2 separate regions of the Homo sapiens genome follow, and region 1 is linked to region 2. The links come from fine-mapping of genetic effects on gene expression. A gene starts in region 2. The other region holds a variant in brackets. All regions are shown on one strand. Distances are from middle to middle.

What was found. PIP is the estimated chance that this variant, and not a neighbour inherited with it, causes the effect.
Region 1: its variant is fine-mapped to the expression of SIRT1 in whole blood (INTERVAL, PIP above 0.99).

What each region holds. Positions count from the first base shown.
Region 1 is chr10:67,847,024-67,855,023 of GRCh38, reverse strand. No RefSeq gene overlaps it. Among named protein-coding and RNA genes, the nearest start is that of DNAJC12, 13 kb to the right of the region's middle. RefSeq lists a silencer at 1,199-1,493 and enhancers at 5,488-5,547, 5,578-5,627. The variant A/G (reference allele first, on the strand shown) is at 4,362.
Region 2 is chr10:67,880,957-67,888,956 of GRCh38, reverse strand. It overlaps SIRT1 (sirtuin 1), which reads right to left and starts at 4,301. Exons shown (of 9, transcript NM_012238.5): 1 at 3,806-4,301; 2 at 1,424-1,540; 3 at 1-75. The coding sequence starts at 4,235. RefSeq lists silencers at 3,596-3,715, 3,512-3,806, 4,241-4,425, 3,926-4,465, promoters at 4,233-4,408, 4,235-4,446, 4,234-5,265, 4,236-6,621 and enhancers at 4,546-4,705, 4,726-4,785.

The DNA of each region.
Region 1 (8,000 bases), 34 kb after region 2:
CTCCCTGATGAGGATAATAATAGCTGATATTTATGAAGCAGTTATTGGGTACCAGATACCATAGTAATTCATGCTATCTTGTTCAATCCTCAAACGAACCCTGTGAGGGATGTGCTATTTTCATCCCCCCTGTACAGATGAAGAGGGGCAATCTGAGGCACAGGACCATTCAGTGGGATCCCACAGCTGGTAAGTGGTAGCTGATCAAGAAGAAAGGAAAAAGCCACCCTTTCCTCCCTGCTTGCTCAGCTACCACTTACTAGCTGTGGGATCCCACCTAATGGCCCTGAATCCCTGTCTGACTGTAGACCACATGCATTTAAGCAGCAAGCTGTATTTGAATGTGCTGTTTCTATTTGGATACTGAATATATATTTTAATAAGTGTAAATCATGGGTCCTCATAAACCCAAATGTCTATAGGGGCCAGAACGTGAGTCCAGAGAACTTTATATATATATATGTGTGTGTGTGTGTGTGTGTGTGTGTGTGTGTGTGTGTGTGTATATGTATATATGTGTATATATGTATATATGTATATATATGTGTATATATGTATATATATGTGTATATGTGTATATATGTATATATGTGTATATATGTATATATGTGTGTATATATATTTTATGTATGTGTGTGTGTATATATATGTATTATATATGTGTGTGTGTGTGTGTGTGTGTGTATATATATATATATATATATATATTTTTTTTTTTTTGAGTCAGGGTTTCATTCTGCTACCCAGGCTGGAGTGCAGTGGTGAGATCATGGCTCACTGCAGCCTCGACTTCTTGGGCTCAAGTGATCCTCCCACCTCAGCCTCTTGAGTAGCTGGGACTACATATGTGTGCAACTATGCCTGGCTAATTTTTTTTTTTGAGATGGAGTCTCGCTCTGTTGGTCTGCCTCGTGGGTTCACGCCATTCTCCTGCCTCAGCCTCCCGAGTAGCTGGGACTACAGGCGCCCGCCACCACGCCCGGCTAATTTTTTGTATTTTTAGTAGAGATGGGGTTTCACTGTGTTAGGCAGGATGGTCTCGATCTCCTGACCTCGTGATCCACCCGCCTCGGCCTCCCAAAGTGCTGGGATTGCAGGCGTAAGCCACCGTGCCCGGCCACATTGGATTCTTTTCTATATTTTGAGTTTTTACTATGTGAATGTATTTTTCAAAAAAACATTTTAATGATCATAGAAAACTACTTCCAGAAGTTGAGGCCAATAACTTACATCTGTGGTCTGATAGGGTGTGCTATAACATCCTCACTGGAAGGAGGACACTCCATGTTCTTATCACAGCAAAAACATATGCCACTCACATATGTTTGGAATCGTTTCAAAGCTACATAACTCTTGCTGAAGTTAAATAGATACGTGACAATGCCAGAGTGACAGTGCTCTCCTGCAGACCAATTAAAAGGGAGTCTCAGGGCATGGGTATAGGTTGTTTTGTTTTGTTTTGTTGAGACAGAGTCTCACAGTGTCACCCAGGCTGGAGTGCAGTGGTGCAATCACAGCTCACTGCAGCCTTCACCTCCTAGGCTCAAGCAATCCTCCCATTGCTCCTGAGTAGCTGGGCCTACAGATGCATGCCACCAGGCTAATTTTTTTAAGAAATTTTTTTGTAGAGACAGGGTCTCATTATGTTGCTCAGGCTGGGTCTCAAACCCCTGGGCTCAAGAGATCCTCCCATCTCTGCCTCCCAAAATGCTGGGATTACAGACGTGGGCCACTGTACCCAGTCAGCATGGTTTTTTTGTTTTTGTTTTTGTTTTTTTTTTGGCTCCCCTCAATGATTCTAATGTGCAGCAAGGTGTCACGTAGACCAAGGATGTTAATCTATAGGAAATATTAATGGAATAAAAACAAGAACTTGTAATACATACTTTCTATGCCCTAGGCCTTGTCCTCTGTGGTAAATTCAGAGAATCCATTTGATTCAGTGATAGAGTCACAAATGCCATACGATTCTGTGATAGCCCAAGCTTGCCAAATGAATGTCTGCCAAAAGGAAGTGAAATAAATATAGAATAATATTCATGAGGAGATTGATGGCTCAGCAAAAGTTCCTTGAGAACATGGTATATGCCTAGTGCTGCAGGAGGTGTAAAAGGAATCTATTTTAGTGGTTCTTCCCATAAGGAACTTAGATTGCAATTAAAGAGATAAGACGGGGGCCGGGCGCCATGGCTCACGCCTGTACTAGGGCCATCTAGTCCCTCCCCCTGAAGGCAACTACTTTATGGGTTGCTTGTGAATCCTTCCAGAGACATTATTATCGTAAGTTAAATAGTTCTTTTTTATTTTTTGGCTTCAGATAGGAATTTTCTTTTTTTTCTTTTTTTTTTTTTGTTTTGAGACGGAGTCTCGCTCTGTCACCCAGGCTGGAGTGCAGTGGTGTGATCTTGGCTCACTGCAAGCTCCGCCTCCTGGGTTCACGCCATTCTCCTGCCTCAGCCTCCCGAGTAGCTGGGACTACAGGTGCCCACCACCACGCCCAGCTAATTTTTTGTATGTTTAGTAGAGATGGGGTTTCACCATGTTAGCCAGGATGGTCTCGATCTCCTGACCTCGTGATCCGCCCGCCTTGGCCTCCCAAAGTGCTGGGATTACAGGCGTGAGCCACCGTGCCCAGCCCCAGATAGGAATTTTCTTTAATCACTCTCTTTTTTGACAGTTTCCTTAATATTTCCTTGATAGTAACGGAGCTAAGGTTAAAGGGAAAGACTGATTCATTGTGTTAGAGTGTAACAGGATCTGGAGGTCATCCTGTCCTTTTTTAATCCAAGTGTGGTCCTTGGATCAACATGGAGCTCACCTGGGTGCCTGCTAGAAAAGAAGAGTCTCAGACCTCACCCAGGCATCCTGAAGCAGAAGTTGCATCTTAACCAGACCTCCAGGTGATTTGTGTGGACCTTTAAGTTTGAGAATCATTGTTTTTGTCCAATCTTAACAAATCAAGGAAGCATGGTTCTGCAAGGAGCCAGTGCAGAACTGATACTCTAAATCAGGTCTTCTGACACCTCGTCTAGTGCATTTCTTTCTTTCCTTTATTTCCCTTTCCTTCCTTCCTTTCCTCCCCACCCCCCTTCTTCCTTTTTTTGAGACAGGGTCTTCCTCTGTCCCCCAGACTGGTGTGCATTGGTGGTGGAATCATAGCTCACTGCAGCCTCGAACTCTAGGGTCCAAGAGACCCTCTTGTGTCATCCTCCTGAGTAGTTAGGACTACAGGTACATGCCATCATGTCTGGCTAATTTATTGTATTTTATTTTTAGTAGAGATAACATCGCACTTTGTTGCCCAGTTTGGTCTTGAACTCCTGGCTTCATGCGATCCTCCTGCCTCCCAAAGTGTTGGGATTACAAGCATTTTCTAATATGCCACAATTCTGGCCAGATAATTTGATGTAACATTTTAAACATTTTCTTCACCAGGGACTTTGGAGTCAGACACAGCAGAGTTCAAGTCCCAGCTTTGTCACTAGCACATAATAAGAGCTCACTAATGGTGTTAAATAAAATTTATAGGCCATTGGTTTGAACTGAGCTCCTGCACTAGGCCCAATAGACAAAACCAAAATGAAGTTACTCATGCCAAACTACCATGTCACCAAAACAAAACTAAGTTGCTTATTCCACCTTCCAAGAAATCAGGAGAGAAACCCACACAGGCCAGTTTCAGCTGGCATAATAAGAAAGTCGGCTGTGCTTTAATTTTACAAGGAAAGTAACTTTGAAACGACCAATCTGCTTTTTGTTATCTCTTTCTGCTTTCTTCAGCCCCTTTTTGGCTTATAAAGCCAGCCTCCTGCCCAGATCCCAGAACACTCAATTTATTTTACAGAATGAGGTGTTATCTGATTTATTGCAAATAAAAGCCAATTAAGATCTTTAAATTTGTTGTAATTTTATCTGATGAGTGGTTATTATACGTCTATTTTTTTTTTTTTGAGAGAGTTTCGCTCTTGTTGCCCAGGCTGGAGTGCAGTGGTGCGAGCTTGGCTCACTGCAACCTCCGCCTCTCCGGTTCAAGTGATTCTCCTGCCTCAGTCTCCGGAGTAGCTGGAATTACAGGTGCCCACCATCACGCCCAGCTAATCTTTGTATTTTTAGTGGAGACGGGGTTTCACTATGTTGGTGAGGCTGGTCTTGAAACTCCTGACCTCAAATGATCCACATGCCTTGGCCTCCCAAAGTGCTGGAATTACAGGCGTGAGCCATCGTGCCCGGCCTATTATACTTCTTATTGTTACTTAAAAACAAACAAACAAACAAACTACTTTTAGAGCAGTTTAGTTTCACAGCAAAATTGAGGGGAAAGTACAGAGTTCACATACCCCATCTCCCTTCCTCCCAGAATA[A/G]CCTATCAACATCCTGCACTTACTATTCTTAAAAATGGCATTAATAGCATTCATCATCGCACCTGATTATAACTTGAAAACGCTATTTCTTTTTTCATTTTTTGAGACAGAGTCTTGCTCTGTCGCCCAGGCTGGAGGGCAGTGGTGCGATCCCGGCTCACTGCAAGCTCCGCCTCCCGGGTTCAAGCGATTTTCCTGCCTCAGCCTCCCGAGTAGCTGGGACTACAGGCCCCCGCCACCACGCCCGGCTAATTTTTTGTATTTTCAGTAGAGACGAGGTTTCACCGTGTTAGCCAGGATGGTCTCCATCTCCTGACCTCAGGTGATCCGCCCGCCTCGGCCTCCCAAAGTGCTGGGATTACAGGTGTGAGCCACCGCGCCCGGCCTGAAAACGCTATTTCAACAGCCTTTGGAGAATCATTTACGAATTTCTAGGTATTCATGTATTCTATGTCTGACTCAACAGTAACGCCTTTTGACTCATCCGGTTCTTGGACCAGGACGCTGTCTTGCTCTGTAAGCCAGGGAGAGATTTTATTAGGCTATTTTACAAATGCAGGGTCTGAAACAAAAAGGTTACGGTCCGGGCAGGCTATGTTTTCTTTCTACTGGATCTTAAGCTGGACCGGATCAGTAGATTGAGGAGCAGGCTTTAGAGAGCCCAGTGTCAATCTGGAATCTAAGCCCTTCTATCAGAGCGCAAAACTCGTGTCCAGGACCCCAGCCTTAGCGGGGAGCAGGGGCCCGTGTGTCGGGAAATAAGGACGAATGGTTGCAGGCACAGTTTCTGGAACCTGCGTTTTGTGCCTCCTTTGCTCGTATTTGGAAAAACCGCTGGGGAAAGGCGCCGATTTCATTCTGCAATACAGAACTTTGAAGCGAGGCTGGAAGGAAAAACGAGAGGCGGAAAGGGTCAGGTCAGAGTGCGACTTTCAGGGCCGCGCAGAGCCCACCTGTGGGCTGGCTAATTTTCATCCTCGCTCGGAGCTTCTGGAGCTTGTAGCCTCTTGTTTTCCAGCCTTTCTCCTTTTGATTTGAGCTTAGTTTCAGTTTACCTACTTCCAGACTAGGGCATTCGATGTAAAAATAGCACTTACGGAGGGCGGGGGGCGGAGGGGGGGACGGTGTCCCTGAGTATGAAAGTAACTGGCTTGTTTCCGGTTCCTCTGTGGCGCCGTTCTCGCGATGCTCGCGATGCCTTATGGGAGTTGTAGTCTCGGGTGAGAGACGCTTCCCGGCAGGGAGGAACAGGCCTCCAAGGCCTAGGATTGAGCATCGGACTCTCCGTGTCTTGTGTGTGTGGTTCTCTTCTCTTCTCTTGTCTTGTGTGTGTGGTTCTCTTCTCTTCTCTTCTCTTCTCTTCTCCCCTCCCCTCCCCTTCCCTGCCCTCCCCTCCCCTCCCCTCCCCTTCCCTGCCCTCCCCTGCCCTCCCCTGCCCTCCCCTTTCTTTTTTCTGACGGAGTGTCACTCTGTTGCCCAGGCTGGAGTGCAGTGGCGCGATCTCGGCTCACTGCAACCTCCGCCTGCCTGGTCAAGCAATTCTCCTGCCTCAGGCACCCGAGTAGCCGGGACTATAGGCGCCCGCCACCACACCCGGCTAATTTCTGTATTTTTAGTAGAGATGGGGTTTCACCATTCTGGCCAGGCTGGTCTGGAACTCTTGACCTCAAGTGATCCACCCGCCTTGGCCTTCCAAAGTGCTGGGATTACAGGCGTGAGCCACCGCGCCCGGCCTCCACAGAGCTTTAACTCTGTTAAAAAGTTCTACATAATTTCTACTATACGCTATATTCTTCCATACAGAAGAAAAATTATGGGATGACTACATCGACTTCACACAGTTTAAAAAAGTATAAAAGGAAATGAAAATCTTCTTTTGAGTACCTGCCCAGTTCCTCCCCTAAAAGAATACTGTTGCTTGCTTTTTTTTTTTTTTTTTGAGATGAACTTTGGCTCTTGTTGCCCAAGCTGGAATGCAATGGCGCAATCTCGGCTCACTGCAACCTCCGCCTCCCGGGTTCAAGCAATTCTCCTGCCTCAGCCTCCCTAGAAGCTGAGATTACAGGTGTGCGCCACCACTCCCAGCTAATTATTATTAGTAGTAGTAGTAGAGACGGAGTTTCACCATGTTGGCCAGGCTAGTCTCGAACTCCTGACCTCAATCAGGTGATCCACCCGCCTCAGCCTCCCAGAGTTCTGGGATTATAGGCATGAGCCACTTCGCCCGGCCTGCTGCTTGCTTTTTTTTTTTTTTGAGACGGAGTCTCGGTCTGTAATCCAGGCTGGAGTTCAGTGGTACGATCTTGGCTCACTGCACCTCCACCTCCTGGGTCCCGGTTAAAAAAATTCACCTGCCTCAGTCTCCCGAGTAGCTGGGATTACAGGAACGCACCACCATGCCACGCTAATTTTTGCTTTTTTTTTTTTTTTTTTTAAGTAGAGACGGGGATTTCACCCTGTTGGCCAGGCTGGTCTTGAACTCCTGACCTCATGATCTGCCCACCTCGGCCTTCCAAAGTGCTGGGATTATAGGCGTGAGCCACCGCTCCCAGCCTGTTGCTTGCTTTTTAAAGGCAGTTATCTTTAGAAAAAATTACAAGTGCAAATGTACATACTATTAAAAAGTACACAATAGAGATAATACTGTAATACTCTTCTCAAACCTGTTTTTTCATTTGATAGCACTCGTTAGACATCTTTCCATACTTGCACATAAAAAGCTATCTTTATTCTCTTTTCACTGGCAATACAATAGTTCATCCTACAAATAGCATAATTTATTCATCTCCTGCCCTCCTCAACTCCACCGATGAACATTTTGTTGTATATATATTTTTTCCTGTTGCAAACGACGCTGCAGTGGTCCTCTTGAACATATTTTGGTGTATATCCACAAGCTGAATTTGTAGAGACAAAATTGCCCTGTCAAGTATAGATATGCTTTATAAAAGGTGATAAATACACCAAATTGCCAAATTGTACCAAATTACACTCTCATCCAACAATGTATGGAAATGCTTTCTTCGTCATTTCTGTTTTCTGGCATGGGTATTATCAAACCTTTGCTAATCTGAGAGGTGAACAACTTTATCCTCTTTGGATTGATTTGCAGTTTCATAATTATTAGTGATGTTGCACTACTATTTGTATGTTTATTGGTCGTTTGTATTTCTGAAAGTAGTTGTATTTTTGGCTTAATTTTCTTTCTTTCTTTCTTTTTTTTTTTTTTTTTTTCTAGACGGAGTCTCGCTCTGTCGCCCAGGCTGGAGTGCAGTGGCGTGATCTCCGCTCACTGCAAGCTCCGCCTCCCAGGTTCACACCATTCTCCTGCCTCAGCCTCCCGAGTAGCTGGTACTACAGGCGCCTGCCACCACCCCCGGCTAATTTTGTTTTTTTTTGTATTTTTAGTAGAGACGGGGTTTCACCGTGTTAGCCAAGATGGTCTCCATCTCCTGACCTGGTGATCCGCCTGCCTCGGCCTCCTAAAAGTGCTGGGATTACAGGCGTGAGCCACCAAGCCCGGCATTTTTGGCTTAATTTTCTGTTGTGTTGTTAAGCTTTTTAAAATTGATTTGTCTGCACTTGTATATTAAGGAAGTTAGCCTTTTGTCTGTTATGAGAATTATGAAATTTTTTTCT
Region 2 (8,000 bases):
CCGGCAATAAATCTTTAAGAATTGTTCGAGGATCTGTGCCAATCATAAGATGTTGCTGAACAAAAGTATATGGACCTACAATAAGGGGGAAAAGGCTTAAAGTCAACTTATCAAGTAATTCAAAATCTCATTTATTTTCTGAAGTAATGAGTTAGCATTCTGTGAGGGTTTTTTGCAAAGTAAGAAAATGCAATTTAATGGTATTTCATTCTCGGTACACTCAGAATTAATGCTATATCCCAATGAGATTAGGAAGATCTAATGAAGAGTTGGGAAGACCCCCTTCAGCTGTAAGTATATATTTCAAGAGTCTAATTAATTAACAACCAGAATTAAGTTCTTATGGTTAATATCTAGAAACACACACCATAATACCAAAAGTATTTACAAAAGGGTTCTACGACATAGAAAAATCGTACCAGTCCTAAAAGCCTGTACTACTTATCATTAAAACCACACAGGAAAAAGAAATGAAAATCTATACATAACTGCCATCTTAATTTTTTTCCGGTAATTTTTCAATTTGATCTTAACCCATCTTCCAAGATAATACATACAATGTTGATGTTCTGAGAACTAATCATTTTCTTTTACCCTGAGATTGCTCAAACCAGCTCCCTAGGCTTGAGAAAACAAAAATAAATAAATAAATAAATTACAGACACCAAAGAGAAACTGATCTTCACTATGTTTAAATAATCAAGCCATTTGTAAGAGTGAGAACACAAAAAGATCCACTTTCAAGATGGTTATACCTTTGGTATAAAAAACTGATAATGCTTTCTACATCGAAATACTTTCCCATTTCATTCACATATTTATTAAATATTTATTGAGCACAAACTATGTGCCAGGCACTTTTTTAGGCACTGAAAAGACAGGAGTATACAAGTCAGTCAAAAATTCCTGCTCCCGTAGAACTTATATTCTAGACCAGGAAACAACACAATTTAAAAAGTAAGATACAGAGCTTTTCAAGAAGTGGTAAGTGTACAATAAAGTGAAAAAACAAGGAATATGAAGTGAGGGAGGAAGATATTCTAACCGGATGAAGAACACTACACAAAAAGGGGACAAGTGAGGTGGGGCAAGGTGGCACATGCCTGTAATCCCAGCACTTTGGGAGGCCCAGGCGGACGGATCACCTGAGGTCGGGAGTTCAAGACCAGCCTGACCAACATGGAGAAACCCCGTCTCTACTAAAAATTCAAAATTAGCCGGGCGTAGTGGCATATGCATGTAATCCCAGCTGCTGGGGAGGCTGAGGCAGGAGAATCGCTTGAACCTGGAAGGCGGAGGGTACGGTGAGCCGAGATCGCGCCATTGCACTCCAGCCTCCGCAACAAGAGCGAAACTCTGTCTCAAAACAAACAAACCAAAAACCGTACATTTACTCTCTAAAATTAACAGCTCTGAGCCATACCTATCCGTGGCCTTGGAGTCCAGTCACTAGAGCTTGCATGTGAGGCTCTATCCTCCTCATCACTTTCACAGGAATGAAAACCATTAGTGATAATTTCATCACCGAACAGAAGGTTATCTGCAAAAGAAACCAAGTCAGTCAAGGCTATCAAAACAACATGCACCTAAAATGTATGAACGGTTATAGAGCAATCATTTTCATCGAGTACAGCATTTAACATTTACACGGCGTGTGTAAAGCATGCCTATGGGGTCAGCTTGCACTGTTCATTGGAACAGTTTCTTCATCTTTAGGAATTCTGCTCACTCAGTTTCAGCCAAAATCTAAAAATAAATTAAGTCTACTTAAAAAACAGAAAAGATAGCCGGGAGCGGTGGCTCACGCCTCTAATTCCAGAGCTTTGGGAGGCCGAGGCAGGCGGATCACCTGAGGTTGAGAATTCGAGACCAGCCTGACCAACATGGAGAAATCTCGTCTCTACTAATAATACAAAAATTAGCCGGGCATGGTGGCGCATGCCTGTAATCCCAACTACTCAGGAGGCTGAGGCACGAGAATGGCTTGAACCCGGGAAGCGGAGGTTGCGGTGAGCCGAGATCACGCCATTGCACTCCAGCTTGGGTAACAAGAGCGAAACTCCACCTTTTAAAAAAAAAGAAAAGGAAAAAAAAAAAGAAAAGATAATAATCTAGCTAGAATGTATCATACAATCACAAACAATAGCGTTCGTGAAACGTGTAATAAATGGACATTTACATAAAAACGTCATTCAAATATAACCTTGGCAATGCGCACGTTAAACTTACACAATACTACAAGTACCTCTGCATTGTTTCCTCTATTAAATAAACAGTATTAATAACACAATTATTATTAGGTAAATAATAAATTAGTACTCAACTGTGTTGCTTGAAATCAGGGTCTCTTTACTAAATCAGTCCCTAAAAACACATATTACTTTTTTTTTTTTTTTTTTTTGAGACGGGGTCTCACTCTGTTGCCCACCCTGGAGTGCAGTGGCAGGATCACAGCTCACTGCAACCTCGAACTCTAGTACCTGGGACTAAAGGTGTGCGACACCACGTCCCGCTTTTTTTACTTTTAGTAGAGAGGAGGTCTCGCTATGTTGCCCAGGCTGGCCTGAAACTCCTAGGCTCAAGAGATCCTCCCGCTTTGGCCTCCCAAAGTGCTAGGATTACACGAAAGAGCCACCGCGCCCGGCCTGACCCAAATATTGATAAAGATGAACACCTATCAAGGATAGAAACTCCTCAGATCAAAAATAAGAAACCTGACCGGGCGCGGTGGCTCACGCCTGTAATCCCAGCACTTTGGGCGGCCGAGGCGGACGGATCACGAAGTCAAGAAATCAAGACCATCCTGGCCAACATGGTGAAACCCCGTCTCTGCTAAAAACACAAAAATTAGCTGGGCGTGGTGGCGGGTGTCTGTAGTCCCAGCTACTCGGCAGGCTGAAGGAGAATCGGTTGAACGCGGGAGGCGGAGGTTGCACTGAGCCGAGATCGCGCCACTGCACTCCAGCCTAGCGACAGAGCGAGACTCCGTCTCAAAAAAAAAAAAAAAAAAAAAAAGAAACCTTCAAGAACATGACAACTGCAACATATCTGCTTCATTATGCTAGAAGTGTTAAGTTTGTGTCTCAATACTACATACATACAAAAAAAGCATGTTTAGCCCAAACACCATTACCGCACAAGAGCAAGATTAGAATAAAAGTAATATGAACAGCTCTAAAAGTACTCTCTCTCCCATACCCACTCCTAACTGCATTACAGAATGGTAATGTCTTCAGGAACAGCCACGTTCTTTAAATTTTGCAAGCTGTGACTATAGAAACAGCTTTCCTCTTTCAAAAATTGTAATTTCAGTCATAAAAATATAGACCAAAAAAAGCAAACTGCACAGGTGTCAAGTTTGCAAAAAGCAATTGAAAACGCAGACCAACGGGACAGCCAAAAAGTTGCAGACTTAAGTGTGCTGGGGGGTAGAGGAGAAAAGCAATGAAAATAAAAAATAAAGAAAAAGAAAAAAAAAGCTCTAACAAAAGCAATATGCTAAAAGAGTAAGAGGGGGAGAGAAACTTATTTTAAAGCGACTGCGAGAGTCTCCCGACCTGGCTGCTGCGGAAAGAACAAGGCCGCCCAGGCGGGCCACGGACGGAGGAAAAGAGCGAATCCACTGGCAGCTCGCGCAGTAGGAACCGCAGCCCCGGAGGAGCGCGGCTGAACGGAGGGCCGGGGTGGGGAGGGGAACGCCGCGGAGCCTGCCCCGAGCCCCCAGCCGCCCTCAACCTCAGGCCAGTAGGAGCCCGGGGAGAGGGAGGAGGAGATGCGCAGTTCCGGCCGCCCGCACCCTGCGCACCTCGGTACCCAATCGCCGCCGCCGCCGCCTCTTCCTCCTCCTCGCCCTCGTCGTCGTCGTCTTCGTCGTACAAGTTGTCGGCCAGCGGTGGCTCCCGAGATGGGCCCTGCAGGCCCGGCCCATTGTCTCCTTCCCCAGCCGCCGCAGTCGCCTGGGCCTCTTGCTCCCCGCCTGCCGCCGCCGCCTCTGCCTCCGCCTCCCGCCACAGCGCCGCCGCCGCCGCACCCGGGCAGCCCCTGGCCGCCGCCGGCACCTCACGCTCTGGGGCCGCCCCACCGGGCTCGCCCGGGCTCCGCTCGAGGCCGGGACCATCTCTCCGCGGCCTCTTGCGGAGCGGCTCCCCGGCGGGGGACGACGCGGCCTCCCTGTCGGCCCCCGCCGCCGAGGGGGAGCCGCCGGGCTGAAGGGCGAGGGCCGCCTCGTCCGCCATCTTCCAACTGCCTCTCTGGCCCTCCTCCCTCGCCTCCTCTGCTCCCGCTCGACGCGCGGCACTGGCGCCCCCGCGGCTCCGGCTGCGGGAGATTTAAACCCCATCACGTGACCCGCCCCATCGCCGCCCCCGCCCTCTCGGCGCTCCCGCCACCCACGCGGGCCAGACCACAACACTACGGGTCACGTGGCGGGCGGAGGCTGTTGCGTCTACCGCTCCGCCTGGGCTGGAAGCGCACTCGGCCCCGGCGGCCGGCGGCCCTTCCTCTTTGTGGCGAGCGTGTAGTGCAGCCAAATTCGCCCCTCGGCCGCTTTCTCAACTTCTCTTTCAAACTGACCTCAAATCACTACCGCCGGAACAGCTCAAGTTTTGGTCCGCCCTGGGAATTTCCACGTCTTCCTGAAGTGTACACCTGGCCTGCCTTAGCCTTGTCTATATTTAGCTAAGGGTTAAAACACAGCTGAAGCTGGCTAAGACTTAGCTCCCTGAAATACGTTGGATAGTCGTTCTGTTTTGTTAATAAGTAGGAAGAGAGGCAAAAGGAGGCGGCTCCTTTCCCACTCTCCTCACACCGTTCTGACAGCTCCTCTTTTGCTCCTTTTTCTGCTCCTTGCTTTTCTCCTTAGTCGGTTGCTTTTTTCCCCTCTCTCCCATCACTTGTAGGGTGGTATACATTGTAAAATCCTTGAAGGCATATGTCCTCCTGGGAAGACCTTTGACGTGGAGGTTTGGAGATCAGCCGATCTACTTTCTGGCCCCAGCTTGGCTTCAAACGTGTGTGAATTCCCTCCTCCGGGCCTCAGTTTTCTCACGTGCAGAATGGGTTTGTTGGGTCAGTATGAGAGCATGGGAAGGAAATGACTTGGCCTCCATGCACATCTGCCCTTGGTTAAAATTTGGAGTCCTTCCTTTCTAGCGTGAGCTATCTAGCCGTTTCTAAACTTAATTTTTCTCATGTCTTAAATGGTAATAAGTATTTTAAAACGTCATAGATTTAAATGAGATAACCAGATGTAAAACGAGGGGTACCTAGTAGTTCAAAAGGCTTAGTGGAAAGCCCTTCCACTTTCCTCTCTCCCTGAAATTCTGGCACACTGTGACTCCATATCTAATCTTAACTAAGGACCCATATAACCCATGGTAGATCTAGAGCCAGTGTTTGTTATGGCATCTGCCTGGAGCACAGCGTTTCTATCTGTTTAAAGGACCTCTACGAGTTTATGGTACACTGTCCCTTAAGCCTAGTATGGGTTCTGGCCATACTGCATCAATTACCTGCGTGACTTTAGGCAACCAACTTAAAGCTGTTTCTTCATCCTTAAAATAAAAAATAAAAAGCTGGAAATATATCGCTAAGGTCCTATCTACATCCAAAAGTCTTATTTCATCTGGTCACCACTATTCATTTCTGAAAGTAATCATCTCCAGTCCTAGAAGCCTTAAAACCATCTTTGGTTGCGTGGGGGTCAAGGGGAGGGAGAGCATTAGGACAAATAGCTAATGCATGCGGGACTTAAAACCTGGCTGGGCGCGGTGGCTGCTGCCTGTAATCCCAGCACTTTGGGAGGCCGAGGCGGACAGATCACCTGAAGTCGGAAGTTCGAGACCAGCCTGACCAACATGGAGAAACCCCGTCTCTACTAAAAATACAAAATTAGCCGGGCGTGGTGGCACATGCCTGTAATCCCAGCTACTCAGAAGGCTGAGGCAGGAGAATCGCTTGAACCCAGCAGGCAGAGGTTGCGGTGAGCCGAGATCGCACCATTGCACACCAGCCTGGGCAGCAAGAGCGAAACTCCGTCTCAAAAAAAAATATAAATAAAACCTAGATGAGGGGTTGATTGGTGCAGCAAACCACCATGGCTCACCTATAAGTATGTAACAAACCTACACATTCTGCACCTGTATCCTGGAACTTAAATTAAAAAAAAAATCTTTGAAGCGTTCCTTCATACCAATCCCTCTGAAATCCATCTGACCAATCAATGACCAAATCCTGTTGTCCTTCCTTTCTTGCTACACTCCTCCCAATTCCTGACTAGGCACCACACTCCTAGTGGTTGACATACTTGGTCCTCCCCACTTTCTGTCTTACACTACAAAATATTTCATAAATTGACTCTCAGCTACGTTGGTGGAATGCAATATATGAAATGTTGAGAGTCAGTATCCCAATAAAACAGAAACAAAATTCCCAGCTTTTTTGAGAAAAAGATGTCTGTAAGCTTATGAGCATCCTGTTGTTCATTAATTCATTTATATTTATAGTATATTATTGACACGTGAAGTTTATGAACTACAAGAAATGCTATGTGATCAATATTATTGTTAGTATGCTGAGAGGTCAGAGATGCAGTATGCTTTTCAGGTAGGATAAATGAGAAACAGAAATTGTATTACAACAAACACAAAAACAAAAAATCCCAATTAGACTTCTGGTCTACCACTGGTTAAGAACTAACATTAAGGCTAGGCGCTGTGGCTCACGCCTATAAATCCCAGCACTTTGGGAGGCCAAGGCGGGCGGATCACCTGATGTCAGGAGTTCGAGACCAGCCTGACCAGTATGATGTAACCCCGTCTCCACTAAAAATACAAAAATTAGCCCAGAGTGGTGGCATGCGCCTGTAATCCCAGCTACTCGGGAGGCTGAGACGGGAGAATCGCTTGAACTCAGGAGGTGGAGGTTGCAGTGACCTGAGACAGTGCCATTGCACTCCAGCCTGGGCAACAAGAGTGAAACTCTGTCTCAAAAAAAAAAAAAAAAAAAAAAGAACATTAATATTCTGGCTGACTTAGTAGTTCTATTCTCCTAAGTTAATAAATTGGCCTGCCAAGCACGGTGGCTGACGCCTGTAATCCCAGCACTTTGGGAGGTCGAGGCGGGTGGATCACGAGGTCAGGAGATCAAGACCATCCTGGCTAACACGGTGAAACCCCGTGTCTACTAAAAATACAAAAAATTAGCCGGGTGTGGTGGCGGGCGCCTGTAGTCCCAGCTACTCGGGAGGTTGAGGCAGGAGAATGGCGTGAACCCAGGAGGCGGAGCTTGCAGTGAGCCGGGATCGCGCCACTGCACTCTGGCCTGGGCGACAGAGTGAGACTCCATCGCAAAAAAAATAAAAATAAGAATAAATAAAAAATGAATAAATAAAAAAATAAATTGGCCTAATAGCTCTGATATCAGTCTCATGTGACTACAATTAGTAAGGGAGTTAGTATCAACTCTTTTGTACTAATAAAATGTTATTGTCAAAACTGAAAAACACAAATGGAAATCCCTACTTCACACAATATACGAAAATAAATTCCAGCCAGGCGCGGTGGCTCACTCCTGTAATCCCAGCACTTTGGGAGGCTGAGGGGGGGCAGATCACCTGAAGTCGGGAGTTCAAGACCAGCCTGGCCAACATGGACAAACTACTACTGACTCTACTAAAAAATAAATTAGCCAGGTGTGGTGGCACATTCCTGTAATCCCAACTACTTGGGAGGCTGAGGGAGGAGAATTGCTTGAACCTGGGAGGCGGAGATTGCAGTGAGCCGAGATTGCACCATTGCACTCCAGCCAGGGCAACAAGAGCAAAACTTCATCTCAAAAATATAAAAAATTAAAAATTCCAGATGGATTGAAGATCTAAATGAAAAAATACAAAAATAAAAATATGACATTTTAGAATATTTATAACTTTGGATCAAGAAAGAACTTTTTAGCAAGGCAGGAGCCATTTTTTAAATGATAAAAATATTTGACAATATAAAAAT